Homo sapiens: one gene and its partner. The protein of the gene in region 1 interacts with the protein of each later gene in a pairwise test. Each region holds a gene or a part of one and is shown on either strand. Other genes may lie near its edges.

Region 1 (3,573 bases):
AGTAAAACTGTTCGGCTTTGGTCTTGCCCATCACCACGGGGTCAGCGGCCTCAAGGTGGGAAGGGTTGGCCACCAAGGACAAGGTAATGTTCCTGTCGGTGACACGATTGATCCTGCGGTGATACATGCCCAGGTGGTACTTCACATCTCCGGAGCCCTGATGGGGTAAACAGTGAATTTGCACCCTGGCCAAGGAGATGCTCAGTCTCCAAAAGAGCCCTTTTATACGGGAATTTTTTTTTTTTTTTTGAGATGGAGTTTCGCTCTTGTTGCCCAGGTTGGAGTGCAATGGCGCGATCTCGGCTCACTGCAACCTCCACTTTCTGGGTTCAAGCGATTCTCCTGCCTCAGCCTCCCGAGTAGCTGGGATTACAGGCATGCGCCACCACGCCCGGCTAATTTTGTATTTTTAGTAGAGATGGGGTTTCTCCATGTTGGTCAGGCTGGTCTCAAACTCTCGACCTCACGTGATCCGCCTGCCTCAGCCTCCCAAAGTGTTGGGGTTACGGATGTGAGCCACCATGCCCAGCCTTATATGGGATTTCTACTCCCAGGAACCCAACGCAGAAGGATATGGAGGCCTTTTCCCAGGATCATTCCCATCCAGGGCATAAGGAGAACGTCCCTCAGCCAGAGGGGACACACCCCTGCACTCAGAGTGGGGCTGCTGGACCTCTGACCAGGAGGTGGGCCACTGGCCACCTTTGTCCCAACACTAAAATTCTCCCAACAAGGAAGGCAAATCACAAATGGTACAGAAGAACCAACCCCCCGTAAGTCATTCTAAGAAAGAAGTGGAGCCAGGGGTCTTGTGTAAGTTGGGGCTATGCTGGATGTGTCTCTATGCAGGTGCCTCACCTCATCAGCTGCCTCCAGCTTTGAATCGAATTGACAGAAGATCTGTTCCAGCTCCTTCCTGATGACATTTGCAAGCACGTTCAGCCGCCCTCTGGAACGTATGGGCGAGTAGGGTGAGCAGAGCCTGAGGTCATGGTTTCCAGATGGCAGATGAGGGTGTTACAATCCCCCCCTCCCCCTCCCCCCAGGACACGGCACCTCCTCGGTTTGCAGCCCAAGGATAGCTGTAAACTGGAGCTAATGTGGGAACCGAGCCTCTCCGTGCTGGGCAATCAAGGCCACAGTGGGCAGCAGAAAGATAGAAGATGCAGCAATGCCATGGGCCTGAGGCTTCCTTACCCTTCTCCCTCCCCACACCTTCCCTATTTTCACAGTCTTGGCCTCCCCTTCAATGTCAGGAAGCAGCCTTCCCTCCAGGTTAGACCCCAACAAGGGAACTTGGGTTTAATTTTCATAAAGATGCACTGTAAGGCCAAATGCCAGTCTGAAACTACATGTGGCTTTGGAGGTGACCATGACTTTGCAGTCCTCCAGAGGCAGGCAATGTGAGAATCCCCTGCAAAGCAATACACCCTCAGGTACCAGATGAGCCCAGACTCACAACTGGCACTCAAGGAGGAAACAGCTGCTCTCTCAGTGCCTTTACCTGGTGCCTCCTACACAGCCCACAGGGATGGTGAGAAACCAGGTTGGGCGCGCCCTTGGCTGTACCTGTGTGGCATGCCCATGATCACGTAGTCCACGCCATTCTCACTAGACTTGTCAATGATGGTCTTGAGGGCAGGGATCAGTACCTCGCAGCCTTCTAGACCAAAGCGCTTCTCAGAGGACCACTTCCGCTGTAGGAACTCCTCAAACCTGGACAGGGAACCAAGCCACCTTGAAGGGCAATGTCACTCTTCCTGACCAAAAAGAGGGGATTCTGGCCAGGCATGGAGGCTCACACCTGTAATCCCAGCACCTTGGGAGGCCGAGGTGGGCAGATCAGCTGAGGTCAGGAGTTCGAGACCAGCCTGGCCAACACGGTGAAACCTCATCTCTACTAAAAATATAAAAATTAGCCAGCCGTGGTGGTGTGCCTCTGTAATCCCTGCTACTCAGGAGGCTGAGGCAAGAGAATCACTTGAATTCAGGAGGCGGAGGTTGCTCTGAAGGCTGACTCTACTTGTCTGGTGTCTCTTCACACATGTGCAGATGGAGCTTTGCCTGTACCACCCCAAACCCCCTCTCACCTCGGCCAACAGGCTGCACACAGGCCCGATCAACACAGACAGGGTCACTGCTTCCCTGGGAATGTCTGCCCCATGGCCCAGGGCCAGACCCATACCTGGTGGACCGCACAAGCCTGGCCAGCAGGGTCCGTTTCTCCTCATTTGTGAACTGCATGATCCCAGGGGTCTCAAACTTCTGCCGGATCCACTGGCACTGCTCCAGGTCATTGATGAACATGAACTCCACCCCAATATGCTGGCAGTAGGCCATCTATTCCATACAGAAACACACAGTCAAGGGGATTTCTAACCAGGCCTGGCTGAATGAAGACTGCCGACTGCCCATTCAGCCAGAAGGAGGGGATAAGCAGGAGGCTTGTTCTGAAATGTACTCCAATCAAGTGTGACTGAGGATGGGATGGAGTGGGTGCCAGGCAGAAGCCCTCTTCATAGGGTCATGAAGTGCTTCCTTCAGGGACCTGGGTCACTTGTACACAGAGAACCTCCTAGCCTTCCAAGGGCAGGCCAAGGGACAACCCCAGTTCTACTCTGTTACCTTTGTGGCAAGAAGCACAGACCGCAACAGTTGTGGAACTGGGTCCTTCCCCAGGGAAGACAGGCTGTCATCAAGGTCAGACCTGTACCAGCACCCATGACAGGAAATGCCCATAGGGTGTCATAGGCTCAATGGCTGTTAAAGATTTGCAGGTTTTAAAAATTATTTATTTATTTATTTATTTTTTTGAGGCAGGGTCTCTGTCATCGAGGCGGGAGTGCAGTAGCGCTATCAGAGCCCGTTGCAGCCTCAACCTCTTGAGCTCAAGTGATCTTCTTGCCTCATGTTTTGAATTTTTTGGAGAGATGAGGTCTCACTATGTTACCCAGGCTGGTCTTGAACTCCTGGGCTCAAATGATCCTTCTGCCTCAGGAAGCAAGATTGCCCATAAGACAAAAGTCAGGATCCTGAGCAGATCAAGATGTCCTGTACCACGTTCACACTGCACAGCTGGGTGAGGAAGCAGCATCCAGATCTGCAGAGCTCGGCAGGGAGGAATTCAGGAAGAGGAGAGGTGCCAGGAGCGAGAGGAGGCACCAGGCTCTTAGAAGTCCATCTCGGGGCCAGGCGCGGTGGCTCACGCCTGTAATCCCAGCACTTTGGGAGGCTGAGGCAGGCAGATCACAAGGTCAGGAGTTTGAGACCAGCCTGACCAATATGGTGAAACCCCGTCTCTACTAAAAATACAAAAATTAGCCAGGTATGGTGGCATGTGCCTGTTATCCCAGCCACTCAGGAGGCTGACGCAGGAGAATCGCTTGAACCCAGGAGGCGGAGGTTGCAGTGAGCCAAGATCATGCCACTGCACTCCAGCCTGGGCGATAGAGTGAGACTCCATCTCAAAAAAAAAAAAAAAACAAAAAACAAAAAGAAATCCCTCTCGGGCTGCCCTCATCCTGGTACTCCTGCAGAGGCCCAAAACTCGACCTGCACAGCTGCCCTGGAGGA
Region 2 (3,573 bases), on another chromosome or scaffold:
CCCCGGCCTTTCTCCTTCATAAATAGCTTCATGATGACTTCAGCGGAATCCAGTCCATGGTGATTGTGTAAAATCAGGCAAAAAAACCGCTCTCCTACTCGTTCAAGACTAGCCTGGCCAACAAAATGAAACCCCATCTCTACTAAAAATACAAAAATTAGCCAGGCATGGTGGCACGCGCCTGTAGTCCCAGCAACTCAGGAGGCTGAGGCAGGAGAATCACTTAAACCCGGGAGGCGGAGGTTGCAGTGAGCCGAGATCGTGCCACTGCACTCCAGCCTGGGCGACAGAGCGAGACTCCATCTCAAATAAATAAATAAATAAATAAATAACACAAAACAACAACAAAAAACAAATGAGGACTTTTCCCTGGACAAACATTGCAACATACCTTGTGATTTGTGAATCATCACAAATCTCTGAAACTCCCCATCATTCTTTCCCATCCATTCTCTTCTATTTCTCAGCATCAAGTGACTGACCTAACTCCCTAGTTCTCTAGCTAATAAGGCCCTGCCTGCAGCCCCTACTCCCAAATTAAGTTGGAAACACAGCATCAGACTCAGAATAGATTTCAAGAAAATATTTTGCAAGTCTGAAGTAAAGATCTACCCTTGACAGGTATGTCACATTGTGATACCTCTTAATAAGCAACATTGTTTGAATACTATAACATAGAACACACACACACACACATATACAGGAACAGACAGACTCAAGAAATCATGAGCTCACAATCTCTGGGCTTTTGGTACCAAAGCAATGATTCTGATTTCAGGCATTCCAGGGGGAATTCATACAAGGAGAATGAGTGAATGGGCAGGTGTTCAAGCAGAACAAAGAGCATGTTAATTATGGTTTGATTACTGCGTTTTTGAAATGCAACTTAAAATGGCTTATAAGAAGTACAAGTCTATCACATTGTCTTAAAGGTACTTTTTTTTATGTCTACATGTATGTATATATACATATTTACACATTTATTCACACACATATACACATTTTATTTCTATTTATGCAAATACATTCATACATACATACAATTATATATACAAAACTGAAGAGTTAAAAGTTGCCTATGACCATCACCAGATACATTTTTGTAAATTGAGTGGAATCAACTTAAAGTCTGTGGCAAATAAACCAGTATAATTCTATATAAATTTACATTTAAAAAGCTTTGAGTTTTGTAAGTAAAAAGAAAATCATAAAACTTCACATGGGAAAAGCAAGGAGTCTAGTCCTGGAGATTATTTCATATATCTAATAAGGGTGACACTGTAGTGACAGATAAATATTTTTTTGTTACCTCAACAAAGATGAAAGAGAGAATAAAGAAAAGCGTTTCAGAAAAACAGGATTTAATTTTTGAATTTAATTTTCCCTATGTAGTGGGAATTTTGAACATAATTTTCCCTCTGTTCTTCAGAACCTTGATATCTTAATAAGACAGTCTTTTATTACTTGCTTGATAAATATCCATCTTACTTAGAATTTTCTTGAGAGAAAAAAAGCCAGAACATAATGACTGGTATTTACTTAAAATACAAACATGTGTCTGTGATGAAATATACATTGAGGTGTGTATCTGAGGAGTTTATTACAATGAACTCAAATCTTATTATCTGTTAATTAGTATGACTTGAATAATCTTTATACATATAAAATACACAAAGAGAATATTGTTGTGGTTTAAATATATGTTACAGAACATATTTCCCAATAAATCTAGCATTTCTTAGCTTTCCAAAAGGCTTTCGTATTTTTAATGAAGAACCTAGTGATAGTGCTATTTTTGTACATCTTCTCTATAGTCAAAATACTGAACTAGACATTGTATTCTGGAGCATAAACAACAGAAAACAAATTATACACTTTCAGACACTGAATAAAACATTATGACAAATAACAAGTTACCAACAGATTAACATTATAAGGAGGAAAGTAAACATTTAAAATAAATTACTTACTTTGTTTGTCCATGATTAAAACAGTTCTGAAAAAGAAGATCTGACATTAACACACTGTCTACAAGGCCACAAGTCAAATATAACAGTTGAATCGGGATACTCTAAAACTACACAGTCACATTCATAGGATATTCCTCTTTATTCATCCAGCCCAGCCTTATCTGGTCATTTAAGCCCTTTGTGCTTGACTGCATTCCCCTTGCTGTGTTTCTGAGTAGGAATTTAGAAATTGTTGGTCAGCTCATGATGGTGAACACATTCTAAAGCCTTTTGGGAAGAGGGTCCAGTGAGGCAGAAAGCCATAAAGACACACTATGAGCTAAGACTCCAAGTAGTAACCAAGCTAATAACATCAACCTTCACAACTTGAACAATCTAAAGGAAATGCTTGGTTCAGTTCCCAGTCTTTGGACTGGAAATGCTTGGCCCAGTCTCTGGGCCCCAGGAATGTTCCAGCAGGAAAGCAAAAAATGTTAATTATCAGGTCACACTACTGCAATTATCTTGGGAAATGTAGGTCTTGTGGACCTGTTCTTTGCAAATTTGAGAAGGCCTGAGACGACTCCGTGCATTCAGAGATTTTTTTTTTTTTTTAACCAGAAAACCCACTCTCAGGAGTTGTCACAGCCATAGCACCTTGACCACCCAAGTGAAACTTTGTACTCGGTATTTATACAGAAACATAAATTGCAGCAAACATTCTACTCAATATTTCTGCCTTCCAGTGCCTTGATCCGATCCTAGTTTTTCCCACTACTATCCTGTCACTACTTTTTCCATCTCCTGTAGATCCCGATGCCCTTCATCCCTTTTAGCGACAATGCATTAGGCAAAACTCTGCTACCCAACATTTTTATCTTGGACCCACACACACTAACACAAACTGCCCATCCCCTTCCCAGGCCCACTCCAGTGCTGGCTACCCTTTAAATTATCTTACTGTGCAATCCTAAGTGGTTAATAAGTCAAGTGATCCCTCTACATGCTCAACTAAAATCAAGACTTCCCAAGAAGAAACCGCCTTCCTCCTTGCTGTTTCAGAATTATTTTTTGGCCAGGGATGGTGGCTTATGCCTATAATGCCAGTATTTTGGGAAGCTGAGGCAGGAGGATCACTTGAGTCCAGAAGTTTGAGATCAGCCTGGGCAACATGGACAGACACTGTCTCTACTAAAAAAAAATTAGCCAAGCATGGTGGCATGCGCTTGTAGTCCCAACTACTCGGGAGGTTGAGGTGGGAGGATTGCTTGAGCCTGGAATATTGACGGTCTAATGAAGTATGATGTCATCACTGCATTCCAGCCTGGGTGACAGAGCAAGACTGTGTTTTAAAATAAAGGGTTTTTTTTGTTTGTTTGTTTTGTTTTGATTATTGCCAACTTTAAGCACAAAATTTTATAATCAACTTAAAGTCTTAAGAACATTCCAATTATAGTCAACTCTTAATTATACATACTCAAGAAGTTCAGCAATGGTTGAATAATTCAAAATGGGTTTATGTGGTCCTGAAATAAATCAAAAGATGTGTTTGTGTTACTAACTTCCCAGATTTTCTTAGGACAATAGGAATCTCAGTTTGCATTAACTGGTCAGAAATTAATGC

The links. The genes of interacting proteins can lie anywhere in the genome.
Region 2: the proteins of OGDH (region 1) and PLSCR1 interact in a two-hybrid assay, tested with the Homo sapiens proteins (one large-scale study listed by BioGRID and IntAct).

The regions. Positions count from the first base shown.
Region 1 is NC_000007.14:44,672,554-44,676,126, reverse strand, and holds part of OGDH (2-oxoglutarate dehydrogenase complex component E1 isoform 1 precursor), read right to left. Parts: intron 2,341-3,573; coding exon 2,186-2,340; intron 1,717-2,185; coding exon 1,570-1,716; intron 950-1,569; coding exon 859-949; intron 158-858; coding exon 1-157. UniProt on the Homo sapiens protein: 2-oxoglutarate dehydrogenase (E1o) component of the 2-oxoglutarate dehydrogenase complex (OGDHC). Participates in the first step, rate limiting for the overall conversion of 2-oxoglutarate to succinyl-CoA and CO(2) catalyzed by the whole OGDHC.
Region 2 is NC_000003.12:146,534,570-146,538,142, forward strand, and holds part of PLSCR1 (phospholipid scramblase 1), read right to left. Parts: intron 3,476-3,573; exon of another isoform or gene 3,427-3,475; intron 1,997-3,426; coding exon of another isoform or gene 1,984-1,996; coding exon 1,971-1,983; intron 1-1,970. UniProt on the Homo sapiens protein: Catalyzes calcium-induced ATP-independent rapid bidirectional and non-specific movement of phospholipids (lipid scrambling or lipid flip-flop) between the inner and outer leaflet of the plasma membrane resulting in collapse of the phospholipid asymmetry which leads to phosphatidylserine externalization on the cell surface.